Regions from separate parts of the Homo sapiens genome. Here region 2 is linked to region 1. A link means that fine-mapping ties the variant in region 1 to the expression of a gene that starts in the linked region. Tissue or cell type: left ventricle. Region 1 holds a variant in brackets; the other region holds the start of a gene. All regions are shown on one strand. Distances are between the middles of the regions.

Region 1 (8,171 bases):
ACAGCCCAGACACTAACCTGGAAGTGGGGGGTATGATGTTGCACTGCACTTGGCCTTTCTTCACTCACCTCTGATGCAGTGGCTTTGCACTCTAGTTAAGCTGCAGGGGCTCCATGAAGGCCACTTACTTGGAGCATGTCCTCCGACACCCACGGCAGGAGGTAGAATCAGTAGCAATGGCCTCTTTGCAGACCATGTAACAGTTTCCAAGGGGGAAAACATTTAGGAGAGTAGCCCTCTGATCTCTTTCATGTATATCTGAACTGCTGGATACTGTTCAGGATGAGCTAAATTTGAGTCCCACTATGGAAAACAGGAAGATAGCATGGCTGTCTCATCACAAACTGAAGGTGATCTTGCCCGGCTCCTGAGTCCTGAGTTACTGCCATGCGCACAATATAGTACAGGGCTGTAGTTCAATCTTTTTTTTTTTTCAAGACAGAGTCTTGGTCCATCGCCCAGGCTGGAGTTCAGTGGCACAATCTTGGCTCACTGCAACCTCCGCCTCCCAGGTTCAGGCAATTCTCCTGCCTCAGCCTTCTGAGTAGCTGAGATTACAGGTAAGCACCAGCACGCCCAGCTAATTAATTTTTTTGTAGAGACAGGGGTCTCACTATGTTGCCCAGTGCAATGATCTTTACATCAAACTTTACAATTTGTAGATACCTCCAGACTTTTGCCCAACTGACAGGTCATAAATTCATACAGCATATATCCGCATTCCCTTACTAGGTTTATGTTATGTAACTAGTTTTTTCTTGGCATCCTCATCAGAAGGTTAATTGCTCAAGGCTAAAAGTTCTTACCTATGATTTACATGATTTGGTTTCTTTGTTGTTGTTGTTGTTTTCAATGGCTGAGGAAGATGTTTGGGAAAGCTGCCTTTGTTTTTTCAGGCTAAGTTACTGCAGCCTTGCTCTAGGATAGCAGCTTTGCACTCCTTCTCCAGATGACACAGGGCCCTCCTTTGGCTAAAACCCAGCCCTGGAGGCTCCACTTTGGCTGTTTCAAAACCTCACCTCTGTGCACAGGATCAGACTCCGGATTTGTTCCTGTGGGGCAGTTCAGCCTTTATGTCCAGGCCCAGTGGCTGGTCTGGCCCCTCTGCCTCTCACAAGGCAATGTCAGTTCTGCCCCCAGCTTGGCTGAAGGCCCAAGGCTCTGCCCTCAGCTGCCCACCAAGAGTCACTGCTTGCCTGGGCTCATCCCAAAGGAAAACTTCCACCCCAGGTCTAGGTTTCTTTTCAAAGACATCCCTTGGGCTCCCCAGCTATTATTTCTCAGGCCTCTGTCCAATGCATAGCAAGGGCTCAGCCGAAACAACCGTATCTAGGAAACTTTCTGTCCGGGAGTATAGAGCCTATCCGTCCTCCAGAGACCCTAGAACTATCACTATGTCTAAAAAGGGAAAGCAGTAGAGAACTGGATCCCTGAACCACATCATATTGGCCCCAGTAGAGTTGCCTTTATGCATCTTGATCTGATTTACATCGTCAGCCTAGATTGAGAGCTGTTTTAAGAAGCAGCCTCATAAAATGAAACAGACCAGTGCTTTCCTGGACAGTCTTTTGACAGAATGCCTCAAGAAGGCCTACCTTTTGTCCCAGGAATTGTATTTCTAGGAATTCTGTATCTAGGCCTACCTTTTGTTCCAGGTACCTAGGCTTACCCTTTGTTCAAGGAATTCTGTGTCCTAAGGAATTGGGCGGTGATTTGCACAAAACGTTTTGTACAACAAAGTTAATTAGTTTCATTCTTTTTTTTTCAGAGATAGGGTCTTGCTTTGTCTCACTGGAATGCAGTGTTGCAATCATAGATGACTCTAATCTGAAACTCCTGGACTCAAGCAGTCCTCCCACATCAACTTCTCTAGTAGCTGCGACCACAGACATGCACCACCATGCCCGGCTAATTTTACAATTTTTTTGTAGAGATGGGGTCTCGGGTAGGGCGCGATCCCAACACCTTGGGAGGCTGAAGTGGGCGGATCACGAGGTCAAGAGATCGAGACCATCCTGGCCAACATGGTGAAACCCCGTCTCTACTAAAAATACAAAAATTAGCTGGGCGTGGTAGCACGCGCCTGTAGTCCCAGCTACTCGGGAGGGTGAGACAGGAGAATTGCTTGAACTTGGGAGGCAGAGGTTGCAGAGTGAGCCAAGATCTCATCACTGCACTCCAGCCTGGCGACAGAGTGAGACTCAGTCTCAAAAAAAAAAAAAAAAGAGATGGGGTCTCACTGTGTTTCCCAGGCTAGTCTCTAACTTTTGGCCTCAAGCTATCCTCTCACCTCAGCCTTCCAAAGCACTGGGATTACAAGCATGAGCCACTGTGCCCAGTCTACACTTTCTTTTTTTTTTTTTTCTTTTTGACAATGTCTCACTCTGTCACCCAAGCTGGAGTCCAGTGGCACAATCACAGCTCACCAAGTAGCTGGGACTACAGGTGTATGCCACCACACCCCACTAATGTTCTTATTTTTTGTAAAGACAGGGTCTCATTATATTGCCCAGGCTGGTCTTGAACTCCTTTACTAAAGCAATCCTCCCACCTCGGCCTCCCAAAGTGCTGGGATTACAGGCGTGAGCCACCATACCCGGCCTGGCCTCTAATTTTTAAATCACCAGTTTGTTGTTGTTGTTTGTTTGTTTGTTTTGTTTTTTTGAGACAGGGTCTCTCTCTGTCACCCAGGCTGGAGTGCAGTGGCACAATCTCGGCTCACTGCAACCTGTTTCCCAGGTTCAAGTGATCCTCCTGCCTCAACTTCCCAAGTAGCTGGGACCACAGGCACATGCCACCACGCCTGGCTAATTTTTGTTTTTAGTAGAGACAGGGTTTTACCATGTTGGCCAGGCTGGTCTCGAACTCCTGACTTCAAGTGATCCACCCTCCTCGGCCTCTCAAAGTGCTGGGATTATAGGCATGAGCCACTGCACCCGGCCTAAATCACCAGTTTTTAACCTTTCTGTACTGTTTGATTTTTTTACACCAATCATGCCTTATGAAAAACATTAAAGCTATTTTAAAAAGAAAACAGCCTTGTGAAACTCAGCCTCAGCCTGCTCTAACGACCTCTTTGAGGACCCGCTCTCTCCCACCCTTCTCCGTCTCTGGATTAAGCTGCCTAAATCTTTTTTTTTTTTGACAGATTTATTGAGATTTAATTAACACACAATACAATTCACTCATTTAAAGTGTGCAACTCAACAGTTTTTATTATATTCACAAAGTTATGCAACCATCACCACAATCAATTTTAGAATATTTTTATCACCCTGCCTCGTTTTAGAAACAAAAAACAGGCCAGGCACAGTGACTCACACCTGTAATTCCAGCACTTTGGGAGGCCGAGGTGGGTGGATTGTTTGAGGTCAGGAGTTTGAGACCAGCCTGACCAACATGGTGAAACCCCATCTCTATTAAAAATACAAAAATTAGCTGGATGTGGTTGTAGGCGACTGCAATTCCAGCTACTTGGGAGGCTGAGGCAGGAAAATAGCTTGAACCCGGGAGGCGGAGGTTGCAGTGAGCCGAGATTGCCCCACTGCTCTCCAGCCTGGGAGACAAAGCGAGACTCCGTCTCAAAAAAAAAAAAAAAAGAAACAAAAAATAATAAATATATTTAATATACATATGTGTGTTGTTGGGAGGATTGTATCCACTCCAAATGTCTAGCTATCATCACACAACTCAGACCCACCAAGAGAATTTTTAGGGATTTTAGTACCTGCCGTTTCCTTCTAACTCCTTCTCTCTACCCGCCCATCCCCCACAACATCCCCCTAAAAACAGACAGATTCCCTCCTAGCCTATCTGATGGGTCCTCATTTCCCTTGGACTGGGGTCAGGGAGGGAAGGTTCCAATCCTACAGGGTACAAGCACCAGGGCTGTTGGGGGAAGAGGATGTTTCTGCTCCTCAGGGAAAGAAGGTTTGAGAGCTGGGCACATGTCACTAGGGTCAAATGGTACCCAACCAGGAGCCCGATACCTGAATTCTCCCCCTAGCGTGGACATAAACCAGCTGGGTGACCATGGGCAAGTCACTCTGCTGTCCTGCTCATTATCCATAAAATCAAGAAGTTGGGCCAAGAAGTTCTGAATCATCTTCCAGTTTTAATATTCAGCAAGCCCTTCTGCTCTCTCTGCCTCTCAGCAAGCTCCTATTCACCCTTTTCTTTCTTTCTTTCTTTCTTTCTTTCTTTCTTTCTTTCTTTCTTTCTTTCTTTTTTTTTTTTGAGACTGAGTCTCGCTCTGTTACTCAGGCTGGAGTGCAGTGGCACGATCTCGGCTCACTGCAACCTCTGCCTCCCAGGTTCAAGCGATTCTTCTGCCTCAGCCTCCCAAGTAGCTGGGATTACAGGCTTGC[G/A]CCACCACACCCAGCTAATTTTTATATTTTTAGTGGAGATAGGATTTCACCATGTTGGCCTGGCTGGTCTCAAACTCCTGACCTCAAGTGATCTTCCCACTTTGGCCTCCCAAAGTGCTGGGATTACGGCGTGAGCCACCGCACCCAGCCTCCTATCCACCCTTCAAAGTCCAACTCGAAAGCTGTCCATTTGCCTGAGCCTCCCGGGGAGAGTGAAGCTCTCCCTTGCCCATCACCCCACGGCACCTTGCCCCTATGTCCGTCCATGCTCTTATCACTCACTTAATCTTCCAAAAAGACAAATTATGCACTGATTCTGTCCTAGATACTGTCCTGGGTCCTGGGGATATTCATGAGCAAAACATAAAAATCCCTGCCCTGCCAGGTGCGGTGGCTCACGCCTGTAATACCAGCATTTTGAGGCCAAGGTAGGAGGGTCGCTTGAGGCCAGGAGTTCAATACTAGCCTGGGCAATATAACAAGACCCTGTCTCTACAAAAAAAATTTAAGAATTTTAGCCCAGGTGTGGTGGCTTATGCCTGTAATCCCAGCATTTTGGGAGGCCTGAGATCAGGAGTTCAAGACCAGCCTGGCCGACATGGTGAGACCCCCTCTCTACTAAAAATACAAAAAATTAGCCGGGCGTGGTAGTGGGTGCCTGTAATCCCGGCATAAAAAAGATTTTAGAAGTTAAAAAAAAAAAAAAAAAAGTACCGGGCACGGTGGCTCACGCCTGTAATCCCAGCACTTTGGGAGGCCGAGGCGGGTGGATCACGAGGTCAGGAGATTGAGACCATCCTGGCTAACACGGTGAAACCCCGTCTCTACTAAAAATAAAAAAAAATTAGCCAGGCATGGTGGCGGGCGCCTGTAGTCTCAGCTACCTGGGAGGCTGAGGCAGGAGAATGGTTAGCGTGAACCTGGGAGGCGGAGGTTGCAGTGAGCCAAGATCGCGCCACTGCACTCCAGCCTGAGCAAAAAGAGCAAAACTCCGTCTCAAAAAAAAAACATTGTACTATTCCTGTAGTCCCAGCAACCGATATTATAGTCCCACGCCTATTCACAGGCATGATCATATACACTGTAGCCTTGAGTTCCTGGGCTCAAGGGATCCTATCCCAGGCAGCCGTATTGCACCACCTTTCTTTTTTTTTTAATAGAGATGAGGTCTCACTATGTTGCCCTGGGAGGCTGAGGGAGGAAGATCGTTGAGCCCAGGAGTTCAAGGCTGCAGCACATATGATCACACCTGTGAATACTCACTGCACCCCAGCCTGGGTCCCATCCCTTAAAAGAAAAAAAAAACTGCCCCATGAGCTCACAGTTAGTTGGGGGAGCTGAAAAAGATAAAGGAGTAACTTGCTTGGGAAATTAGATGGTGCTAAGTGCTAAGGAGAAAGATGAAGCGGGGGAGAGACTGCAGGGCAGGGAACAGTGTGACTTTGAATCAAGTGATTGGGGAAAGATCTAGAGAAGTTGACAGGCACAGACTTGAAGGAGAAGAGGGAACAAGTCCTGGAAGTATCAGGAAAGAATATTCCGTGCGTGAGGCTGGCTTCTGGGTTGTCCACACCACTCTCTGCTGTGTTGACTTCCTGTTGTCTTCATCAAAGCTTTTTTCCGTGGTATTCTAAAATTAGGCCAGCAGTGGGGCTGGGAGGGCATCTGTGTTAGTCCCTTCCTGGCTGTGATCCGCCACACTCACTGTCAGTATTAAGGCCCAGCAGCCTGTTGATAAGCTACGCTGTCTCACCATGCGCTGGTGTGGAAACAGGGCCCAGCCAGCATGCCTCAAGGTAGATGGAATCCCCACTGGTCAGAGAAGAAGCCATGCGGACACTCCAGCTTGGCCTGGGCACAGCACTGACTCCTCACCCGCTAGTCTGGCTGTTAAGAGGAGAAGGTGCACTGCCTTCCAGCCTAGGAGGAGGACAGCATTTTGTATTTGTTCCACTGATGCAGCTTAGAACCACACCCCTGAGAATCGTGGCAAAACTTTCACAACCTGGAAAATGTTGAAAGCAACCATTCCTATTTTTGTTTGTTTTTTATTACATCTTGCACACACACACACACACACACACACACAGACACACACAAAAAGAACATTCCAGGCAGAAATAACAGTGCAAAGGCTTAGCTCCTGGCTTACCTCTCCTCCCAGGCCTGGAGGCTCCCAGTGTCTTGGTTACATTGGGGTCACCTAGAGTAGATGCTCGGAACATGAATGGGCGTCCTCTGCCTTTGTTCTCATGCTCGTGTTTCTCCTATCCTAGACTTGCACCTAGCTGCGGAGCTGGGGAAGACTCTGCTGGAGAGGAACAAGGAGCTGGAGGGGTCCCTGCAGCAGATGTACTCCACCAATGAGGAACAGGTGCAGGAGATCGAGGTGAGGGCCCTGCATGTGCTTGCCCACACCCCTCGAGGGCCCCTTGGCCTGTGTGTGCCTTTATGCAACTTAGAATAAGGTGCCAGCTTATCGGACACAGCCTTAGCCCAATAGCCTGGTACAGTTCACAACTGTGCTATCCTGTACAAGGATAGCACAGCTATCTCAGGCAGCCCTATTGCACAACTAGATTTTTTTTTTTTTTAAATAGACACCAAGTCTCACCATGTTGCCCAGGCTGGTCTCTAACTCCTGAGCTCAAGTGATCCTCCCACCTCAGCGTCCTAAAGTGCTAGGATTACAGGCATGAGCCACCAGGCCCAGCCTGAACCACCATTTTTAAGCCCCACTCAGCTGAAGACAAATACATCAAAGCAAACTTGTCCTTAGAAGGGGAGAAGGGGCTGCTGGCTCATGCTTGTAATCCCAGCACTTTGGGAGGCCAAGGTGGGTGAAATACTTGAGCCCAGGCAACATGGCGAAACCTTGTCTCTATAAAAAATACAAAAATTAGCTGGCTATGGTGGCATAAGCCTGTGGTCCCAGCTACTCAAGAGGATGAAGTGAGAGGATTGCTTGAGCCTGGAGGTTGAGGCTGCAGTGAGCCGTGATTGTGCCACTGCACTCCAGCCTAGGCAACAGAGCGAGACCCTGTCTTAAAAATAAATAAATAAAATAAATAAGATTTATTTCTTTTTTGAAATGGAGTCTCACTCTGTCACCCAGGCTGGAGTGCAGTGGCGCGATCTGGGCTCACTGCAGCTCTGCCTCCCGGGTTCACGCCATTCTCCTGCCTCAGCCTCCTGAGTAGCTGGGACTACAGGCGCCCACCACCGCACCCGGTTAATTTTTTTTGTATTTTTAGTAGAGACGAGGTTTCACTGTGTTAGCCAGGATGGTCTCCATCTCCTGACCTCGTGATCTGCCCGCCTCAGCCTCCCAAAGTGCTGAGATTACAGGTGTGAGCCATCACGCCGGGCATAAAAAAGATTTTAGAAGTTAAAAAAAAAAAAAAAGGCCGGGCACAGTGGCTCACACCTGTAATCCTAGCACTTTGAGAGGCCAAGGCGGGCAGATCACGAGGTCAGGAGATCGAGACCATCCTGGCTAACACGGTGAAACCCCATCTCTACTAAAAATGCAAAAAATTAGCCAGGCATGGTGGTGGGCACCAGTAGTCCCAGCTACTCAGGAGGCTGAGGCAGGAGAATGGTTGGCGTGAACCCAAGAGGTGGAGCTTGCAGTGAGCCGATGTCGCGCCACTGCACTCCAGCCTGGGCGAGAGAGCAAGACTCCGTCTCAAAAAAAATAAATTAATTAATTTAAAAAAAAAAGAGGCTGGCGTGGTGGTGCATGCCTATAATCCCAGCCCTTTGGGAGGCAGAGGTAGGCAGATCACTTGAGGTCAGGAGTTC
Region 2 (8,000 bases), 520 kb after region 1:
TGGATCCCCCACAGCCCGGTCAGGTCTCGAGGCTAGGTGAAAATCTCCAGTAAATGAGCTCTGGCCACACCCCACCAGGACACACATGTCAGGGGAAGAGAAACTTTAGCAACTTGTTAGAGAGTGTTGAACTTTTTTTAAGCAGTAGAATTCCCTTTTTAAAAGCTATCTCGTGGCCTGGTGCGGTGGCTCATGCCTGCAATCCTAGCACTTTGGGAGGCTGAAGCGGGTGGATCACCTGAGGTCAGGAGTTCGAGACCAGCCTGACCTAGATGGTGAAACCCCGTCTCTAGTAAAAATTAGCCAGGCGTTGTGTCAGGCACCTGTAATCCCAGCTACTCGGGAGGCTGAGGCAGAAGAATAGCTTGAACCCGGGAGGCAGAGGCTGCAGTGCGCTGAGATCATGCCACTGCACTCCAGGCCGGGTGAGAAAGCAAGACTCCGTCTCAAAAAAAAAAAACAGCTATCTTATAGATATCCTCTTAAGACACGAACATAGAGGTGCTCTGGTTGAAATGTGTGCGTTTGAGGTTGGGGGTAGGGATGAAGTTCTATCTATTCAGTCTTCTCTAACCCACTGTCAGAAATCTCATGGCTCCAAAGAACACATCAGAAAGACCATCTGCTAGAAGGCAACTCCACGAAGACAGGAATTTGGGTCTGTTTTGTTCACTACTATGATCCAGTGCTTAGAACAGAGCCTGAGCCAGGCACAGTGACTCACGCCTGTAATCCTAGTACTAGGAGGCCTACCTAGGTGGGTGGATCACTTGAGGTCTGGAGTTCGAGACCAGTCTGGTCAACATGGTGAAACCCCCATCTCTACCAAAAATATAAAAAAAAATTAGCCGGGCATGGTGGCACACACCTGTAATCCCAGCTACTAGGGAGGCTGAGGCAGGAGAATGGCTTGAACCCAGAAGGCGGAGGTTCCCGTGAGCCGAGATCCTGCCACTGTACTCCAGCCTGGGTGACAAGCTATAGGCACTCAATAACAATGTGAATGAACGTACTTCAACCCTCTAATTTTGCAGGCCAGGAAACTGCAGCCCAGAGAGGTTAAGTGACTTGCCTAAGGACACACAGCAAGGGGGACCCAACTTTCTCTCTGGCTCTCTCACACAGAGGCACTTCTTACTGAGAACAAGACAGTCCACCCTCCTCAAATATGCAGATCACAGTGACCCACCCCCACCCACCAAGCCTCTGTGAACTGAGCGCTCGGCCTCAGCGGGATGCTCGTCCCACCCGGTACTCACTTGTCTTTGTGGCCTTGACCTTCGCCACCAGTTTCTGCACACCGGTCACATCTCCATTCTTGACGGCGAGGATCAGGTCCTGTTCACGACCCATACTGGCTCCTGGGCTGAGCTCTACACTCAGGAGTCCAGGGCAAAGGCAGGCAACGGGTCCAAGCTGGGGCGTCAGGGCGCCATGCCACAGCCCCTTGGAGGGCTCCCGGTTCCGGGGGAGCAAGTCAGGTGTCCCAGGCAGTGGGCTCCTCGTCAGGTACTGAGGGATACTCCCAAAGGTGCTCCGTGAACTGCCACCACACGAAGGAAAGCTAATCTTTGAGGGGGTGAAGGCTACATGGAAATCTGGATGGATATCAGCTTGTGGCTTCCGACAGCTCCAGGATGGGCTGGGACTGGGCACACCAATCTTCCCGGCTTGGCTGTGGAACACCAGTGCCCACCCAGAGAGCAGCCAGCATTCCCTTGGGCCTCAGGCAGCAGCGGTGCACTGGTCTCAGGGCTCTGGAAAAAGCACGGGGCCTCTGTCGAATGCTGGGCCACAGCCTGCAAGGGTCCCAGAAGTGGAGTGCAGAGGATGAGCAGGACAAGACCTCCAGGGAGCCCCCAAGCCACCCTGGCTCCCCTCGGAGTCGATGGTGATGCTGAGCCACTGAAAGTGGGGAGGAAGCTGCTATGCATGAGAGGAGTATTGGTGGGGGGGAGGTGGCATTCTGGGAGGGGGAGGCTGAGTCACTGGGGCCCCAGGGCACCTGGCAGTACCTCAACCTTGGGCAGGAGGGGCCCTGGCAGCATGACATACTGGGGCAGGCCGGGCCAGCAGCCTGTTCTCCACAGCCCGAGGCTCCGACACCCACAGACAACTGGCGGGCCAGGAGGTGGGGCCGGGAGGGTCAGGCACAGGCAGGCGGGCAGGGGTCACTCCCTGTCAAAGGCACCAGCCCCCAGATTCCTCCCTACGGAGGCTTCAAGGCTTCGCTTTAATGGCTGGATGCCCTAGTCCTAGGACTCTTTGTGAACGGAGAGCATGAAGTGCTTCTGGCCCCCCATTTCTGGGGGCTCTGCCTGCTAGAGAGGGAAGCTGCACAGCACCTGTTGCTGACCCGCCCTCGCCCCTTGTGTCGGGTGGAGGAGCAGCTGGGCAGAGAACAGAGAGAGCTGGGGCACTGCTGACAAACGGGGCTCCCAAGCCCCCCAAGCCTGAACCTGAAGCCCAGACCCTGGACTCCACCGCAGAGAAGCTTACGTCAGTTTCTCGGTGGCAGCGAATTTACTGCCAGAGTCTTGTGGCATGAGATCCGCGCAGGCCTGGGGCCCTGGCCGGGAACCCCTCACTCCCCAAACGTCCCAAGCCCAACCCAGGGGCACTCCCACGCGGAGCCCGCGGCCGACACGGGCGGAGGGCGCCCTTGGCAGTGCCTGGGGTCGGGCTGGCTCCCCCGCCCCCCGGAATGTCCCTCCAGCGCCTCGCAACCCCCCAGCCCAGCCCAGCCCAGCCCAGGCCCACCGGGGAACAAAGCGGCGGGAGAAGCCGGGCGGGCCAAGCGCCCGAGGTATAAACGCGGAGGATGGAAAAAGGGGCGCGAGGAGGACGGAAGGAGCGGGGAGATGGAGGTGCCCGCCGACCCCGCAAGAAAAGTTAGTTTGCGCCCGCCCCCAGGGGCGCTGACCCCCAGCGCGGGCCCCGCAGCCTCACCTCTCCCGGCCGCCCGCCGGGGTCCGGCTGGCCCTGCTCGGTCCCTGGCACTCAGGACGGTGGCTCCCACTCCCCCCTGCCCCCCTTTCTCCTTCTCCTTTTCCAAGGCCGGCTCGGCGCCTCCCGCAGGAAATCCCGCCCCTCCCCCCTCCCTCCCGCCGGATCGGGAACGGAGGGACCGTCCCGGCCGCGCAGTCAGGCTGTCAGTCAGCACCGGCGGCTCCGCCCCCATCCGCGCCAGATCCCGCCCCAACTCGTGCCCGCCCGGACCGGGGGCGCTGACCGGATCAGCGCATGCGCCCAGGTGAAACGGAGGGGCGGGGGGCGCGGGGGCAGAGGTGACCTGGGGCTCTGGACTTAGACCCAAGGGCTAGACACCCCGGGTCTGACTGGTGGGAGAGAAGACGTAATGTGAAGGGGGTTGGCAACCAAGACGCGGGACCCCACTTGCAGTACCCCCCGTCTGCGGCCGGCGTCGCCCACCCGCAGCCGCCGGCCGGGCAATGGCACCACCTAGCGGACGGCACCAGTGCGGGGACCCCAGCCTCGAGGAGGCGCTCGTGCCGGGCGGAGGTGGCGCTTCAGCACCGTCGTGGGCCGGACAGCGCCTCCCGCCCCCGGCCCTCGAAACCTGGCTTCGGAGCCCAGCCGTAGGGACCGGACGGAAGACACCGAAGGAATGGCGAACCTCCCCGGACCGCTCCTGACAGTTCCCGGGTGGCCTTCGGCCTGCAAAGTCGGAATTTGCACACCCTCCGCTCGTCCTTCCCTGAGCCCTTCTGCCCTCCTTGCCCAGCCCGGGCGGTGGGGACTAAGCAGCGCGAGGCTGCAGAGGGGCGGTCACAAGTGTGACCATTCGCACTGCACTCCAGACGCCGGCTCCTCAGGCTTTACTGGAGAGAAGCCCCGAGGAGGGCTAGGGGCAAAAGAGGGGCCTTCTGCATCTCCAGCAACCTGCGGGCTGAGCTCCCAGACCCGGCGTCGGGGTGCGCTTCCGGGCGGGCGCTAGGACCGGGGACAATCAGGAGGGCGCAGAGCGGGCTGGGGCGGTGCAGGGGGCGGGGCTGCCGCGGCATTGCGGATCGGCGGGCACTAGGGCAGCGCGGAGCTCCGGCGGTGGGCGGGGCGTGGCGGCGCGCGCAGCGGCAGGCGGCGGCGGGATGGAGCCCGAGCCCGAGCCCGCGGCCGTGGAGGTTCCCGCGGGGCGCGTGCTCAGGTGCGGCGCGGCCCGGCCGGAGTGGGTGTCGGGGGCGCGGGGCCAGCGCGGGTAGGGAAACCGGCGCCCGGGACCCGGCCAGGCGGCCCCCGATGCGCGGCGCTGACCCCGCGTCCCCTTCTCCCCCAGCGCCCGGGAGCTCTTCGCCGCCCGCTCGCGGTCGCAGAAGCTGCCCCAGCGCTCGCATGGCCCCAAGGACTTTCTGCCCGACGGCTCGGCAGCTCAGGCCGAGCGGCTGCGCCGGTGCCGGGAAGAGCTCTGGCAGCTGCTGGCAGAGCAGCGCGTGGAGCGCCTGTGAGAGGGGCGGGCCCAGGGGTAAGGGAAGCGGGGGCGAGGCGGGCCGCGGGGTCTCCGGAATGGACTGACGCAGACCCCTCCCCACTCCTCGCCAGGGGCAGCTTGGTGGCTGCCGAGTGGAGGCCAGAAGAGGGCTTCGTGGAGTTGAAGTCTCCCGCGGTGAGCGGCGGGCTCGGGGACCGGGGACCGCCCTCCCTGCCCTCCCTGCCCTCCCTCCCTTGTGACACTTGCTCTGGGCCCCACACAGGGCAAATTCTGGCAGACCATGGGCTTCTCAGAGCAGGGCCGGCAGCGCCTTCACCCGGAAGAGGCCTTGTATCTTCTGGAGTGTGTAAGTGGGGCCCGGGAGGTGGGGAAGGAGTTGGGACCAAAGAACGGGAAGGACACGTTTTATCGGAGAAAAAGCACACACAACCCGGTCTTTAGAGAACTGATAACCAAACTTCTAAAGCAGGAGGTGGTACGTTGCAGGGAGCAGGGATTCCAGTCCACATTAGTGATGCTGCCCCACTTTCCTGGTTGGCCACATTCTTGATGCGCTGCTGAGAGGGGGAGGGGGAGGTATCAGAGCTGGGAAGTTGCCCCATTCCTCTGTGGCACTGTAGTGAGGGCTCATAAGCTGAGCTGTTGGCCCCACTTCCAGGGCTCCATCCACCTCTTCCACCAAGACCTGCCACTGTCTATCCAGGAAGCTTACCAGCTGCTGCTGACCGACCACACTGTGACCTTCCTGCAGTACCAGGTATCTGCCACCACCCCGCCTCCGGGAGCCACCCATCCACTGAATCAATGAGTATTGACAAGTACCCATAAGGTGCCAGGCACAGTGTCACATGCTGGGGCTGCAGGGCAGACGAGGGCTATGCTGTCACGAGGCTTACATTGTGGTGGTGGCCTGTTGGCTTCACATAGACCCCAGTGCTGTCAGAAGATAAGGTGGGGGAAGAGAATCCAAAGAGACTGGGCTGTTCATTCAGGTGAGAGAAGCTAGGGGCTTGTCGCAGGTTGGGGGTGGGTAGAGTTGCAGTGAGTGAAAAATAGATGAATCTCAGAAATATTTTGGAGAAAGAATGGATAGGACTGCCAATGGATTGGATGTCAGGATTAAGGAGAGAGAAGAACCCAGGATTACCGCCCATGATTTGGGCATGCACCAGTGGATGAAGGTGCTGTCATTTTCTGAGTGGGAAGAATGAAGAGGAGCAGATTTGGGAGGACAAGACCAGTCGAAAGAACTGTGTCAGATAAGTTAATTTTGAGGAGCTTCTTGGACATCCAAGTGAGTGTAAAGCAGACAGACAATTGGAATCCAAGTCTGGAGTGTGAGGAGAGGTCAAGGCTAGATGTAAATATGGGTGCCATGAGCACATGGATGGTATTTAAACTACTGGGCTGTATGGGAGTGCCATCAGAGTAGAGGGCTGGGTCTGAGCCCTGGGGCTCTCTGTGTAGGTTAGGGGGCAGATAAGAAGCAGAAACAGACCGAGGAGTGTCTGGTGATGCAGGAGAAAAACCAAAGTCGCATCACAGAAGCCAAAAGAAGGTCTTTCAAGGAGGAAGTGGTTAGCTGTGCTAAAGCCTGCTGAGATCAAGCAGGATGGGGGACATTCTTATCTATGTTCCTCTGATATGAATGCAGGGACACAAGGTTGAATATGTGGCTCCCTACCAGAAACTTCCCACCGGCATCTGTGGAGGTGTGGGGCTGGAGAGATGCCCACCACCTGCCATCATTTTGTTCACATGGTGATCGGCAGCTTCACTCCTATGAGCTTTGTATCAAAATACTCAAGTATTTCAGGGCGTGGTGGTTTTCTGGTTTCATGGCTATCAGTTTTTTTGGATTTGGCTAAATGTCATTTGTGCCGAGTAAGGTAAGTGGGAGGACAGGAATTCAGAGCCTGAGATCTTTAGGGATGGTGTTCGTAATGAAGCATGGTCCAACCTTAATCACAGGGTTTAGAATCTGGGGGTGTACAGGAGGGGCAGAGAGGGCTGTGGGGATGGCCTGTGTCTGGAGAAACCATTTGGTGTTTTCCAGAGTGGCCATCTGAGCTTTCATTTTTTTTTTTTCTTTTGAGGTCTTCAGCCACCTGAAGAGGTTGGGTTATGTGGTTCGACGATTCCAACCAAGGTAAATCCCCTTCCTGTTCCCCTTCCATATATTCTAGTCCTGGGACCTGGCTGACTAGTCTAAGGTAGAAAATGGCCTCTCCTTACCTGGAACCCTTGGCTGGAGTGCAGTTCCTTGGGCACAGACTGGGGGCGCCTGCTGGAAGCGTTCTGAGAGAGGCAGGTTGGGAGGAATCCAGGTCATTTTGTTTTATTCTGGTTTATGAACTCGAGCCGCATCTTCAGATGACCTGCGCCTGCAGCTGAGTGTGTGTGAGCACTGAGAGGCAGGATTGGAACAGTGCCTGGCACTTAGTAGGTGCGCAGGCAGGTATGTAGAGTGTATGCTTAAATGAAGGACTGGGTGAAGAATTTACCATTAGTAGGGTTTCACATTTTTCATGCCAGGTTAAATGTTTTTTCCTTCATCACCTTAGTAATCCAGCATTGGTAAAAGGCAGAGACCTTCAGACTTGGAGTGGAAACGGGTACAGCTTTTGCAGTTACAGTATGTCACAAAAGCTCTAAAGCAGGCACATCTTTTCTTTTCTTTTTGAGACGGAGTCTCACTCTGTCGCCCAGGCTGTAGTGCAGTGGCATGATCTCAGCTTACTGTAGCCTCTGCCTCCTGGGTTCAAGCAGTTCTCCTGCCTCAGCCTCCCAAGTAGCTGGGATTACAGGCGTGTGCCACCATGCCTGGCTAATTTTTTTATTTTATTTTATTTTTAGTACAGATGGGGTTTCACTGTGTTGCCCAGGCTGGTCTCGAACTCCTGACCTCAAATGATCCTCCCGCCTCAGCCTCCCAAAGTGCTGGGATTACAGGCATGAGTCACCACGCCCAGCTCTACATCTTTTCTTTTCTGAAAGTGGAACCTATCCTAAGGAAATAATCGTGGACGTGTACAGTGGTTCACCTGTGAGAATGATCAACGATATTTATTATTTGCTGGGGGTCAGGCCCTGTACACATCGCTGAGAACAGAAGAGCAAAATCACTGCCCTCACAGAGCTTGCATTTAGTGAGGAGTCACACAGAACACACTCACTGTGCAAAATCAGTGTACTTGCAAACAAGAGTTGAACAAGAGGCAGGCTCACACAAATGAGAGGTTATCCCTTAGAGCAGCTCTGTCCAATAGAACTTTCTGTAATGATGAAAATGTTCTGTGTCTGTGATGTCTAATACATGGGGCTAGAGCAACTGTGGGACTGAATGTTTAATTTCATTTAATTTAAATGTATTTAAATCTAACTTAAATAGGCTGGTGTGGTGGCTCACGCCTATAATCCCAGCATTTTGGGAGGCCGACGCGGGCGGATCGCGTGAGCTCAGGAGTACGAGACCAGCCTGGACAGCGTGGTGAAACCCTGTCTCTACTAAAATACCAAAAAAAAAAAAAAAAAAAAATCAGCCAGGTGTGGT

What was found. PIP is the estimated chance that this variant, and not a neighbour inherited with it, causes the effect. A credible set is the group of variants that fine-mapping cannot tell apart.
Region 2: it holds the start of TSEN54, and the variant in region 1 is the best candidate, but not a certain one, in a credible set for the expression of TSEN54 in left ventricle (GTEx, PIP 0.65).

What each region holds. Positions count from the first base shown.
Region 1 is chr17:74,992,861-75,001,031 of GRCh38, forward strand. CDR2L (cerebellar degeneration related protein 2 like) reads left to right here. Exons shown (of 5, transcript NM_014603.3): 2 at 6,644-6,756. Among named protein-coding and RNA genes, the nearest start is that of CDR2L, 9.3 kb to the left of the region's middle. RefSeq lists enhancers at 612-1,113, 1,114-1,613. The variant G/A (reference allele first, on the strand shown) is at 4,368.
Region 2 is chr17:75,512,452-75,520,451 of GRCh38, forward strand. TSEN54 (tRNA splicing endonuclease subunit 54) reads left to right here and starts at 4,077. Exons shown (of 11, transcript NM_207346.3): 1 at 4,077-4,165; 2 at 4,295-4,459; 3 at 4,558-4,621; 4 at 4,710-4,793; 5 at 5,106-5,204; 6 at 6,544-6,596. The coding sequence starts at 4,110. It overlaps CASKIN2 (CASK interacting protein 2), which reads right to left and starts at 3,086. Exons shown (of 20, transcript NM_020753.5): 1 at 2,950-3,086; 2 at 1,260-1,757. The coding sequence starts at 1,353. RefSeq lists enhancers at 2,196-2,762, 3,857-4,151 and silencers at 2,936-3,545, 3,936-4,315.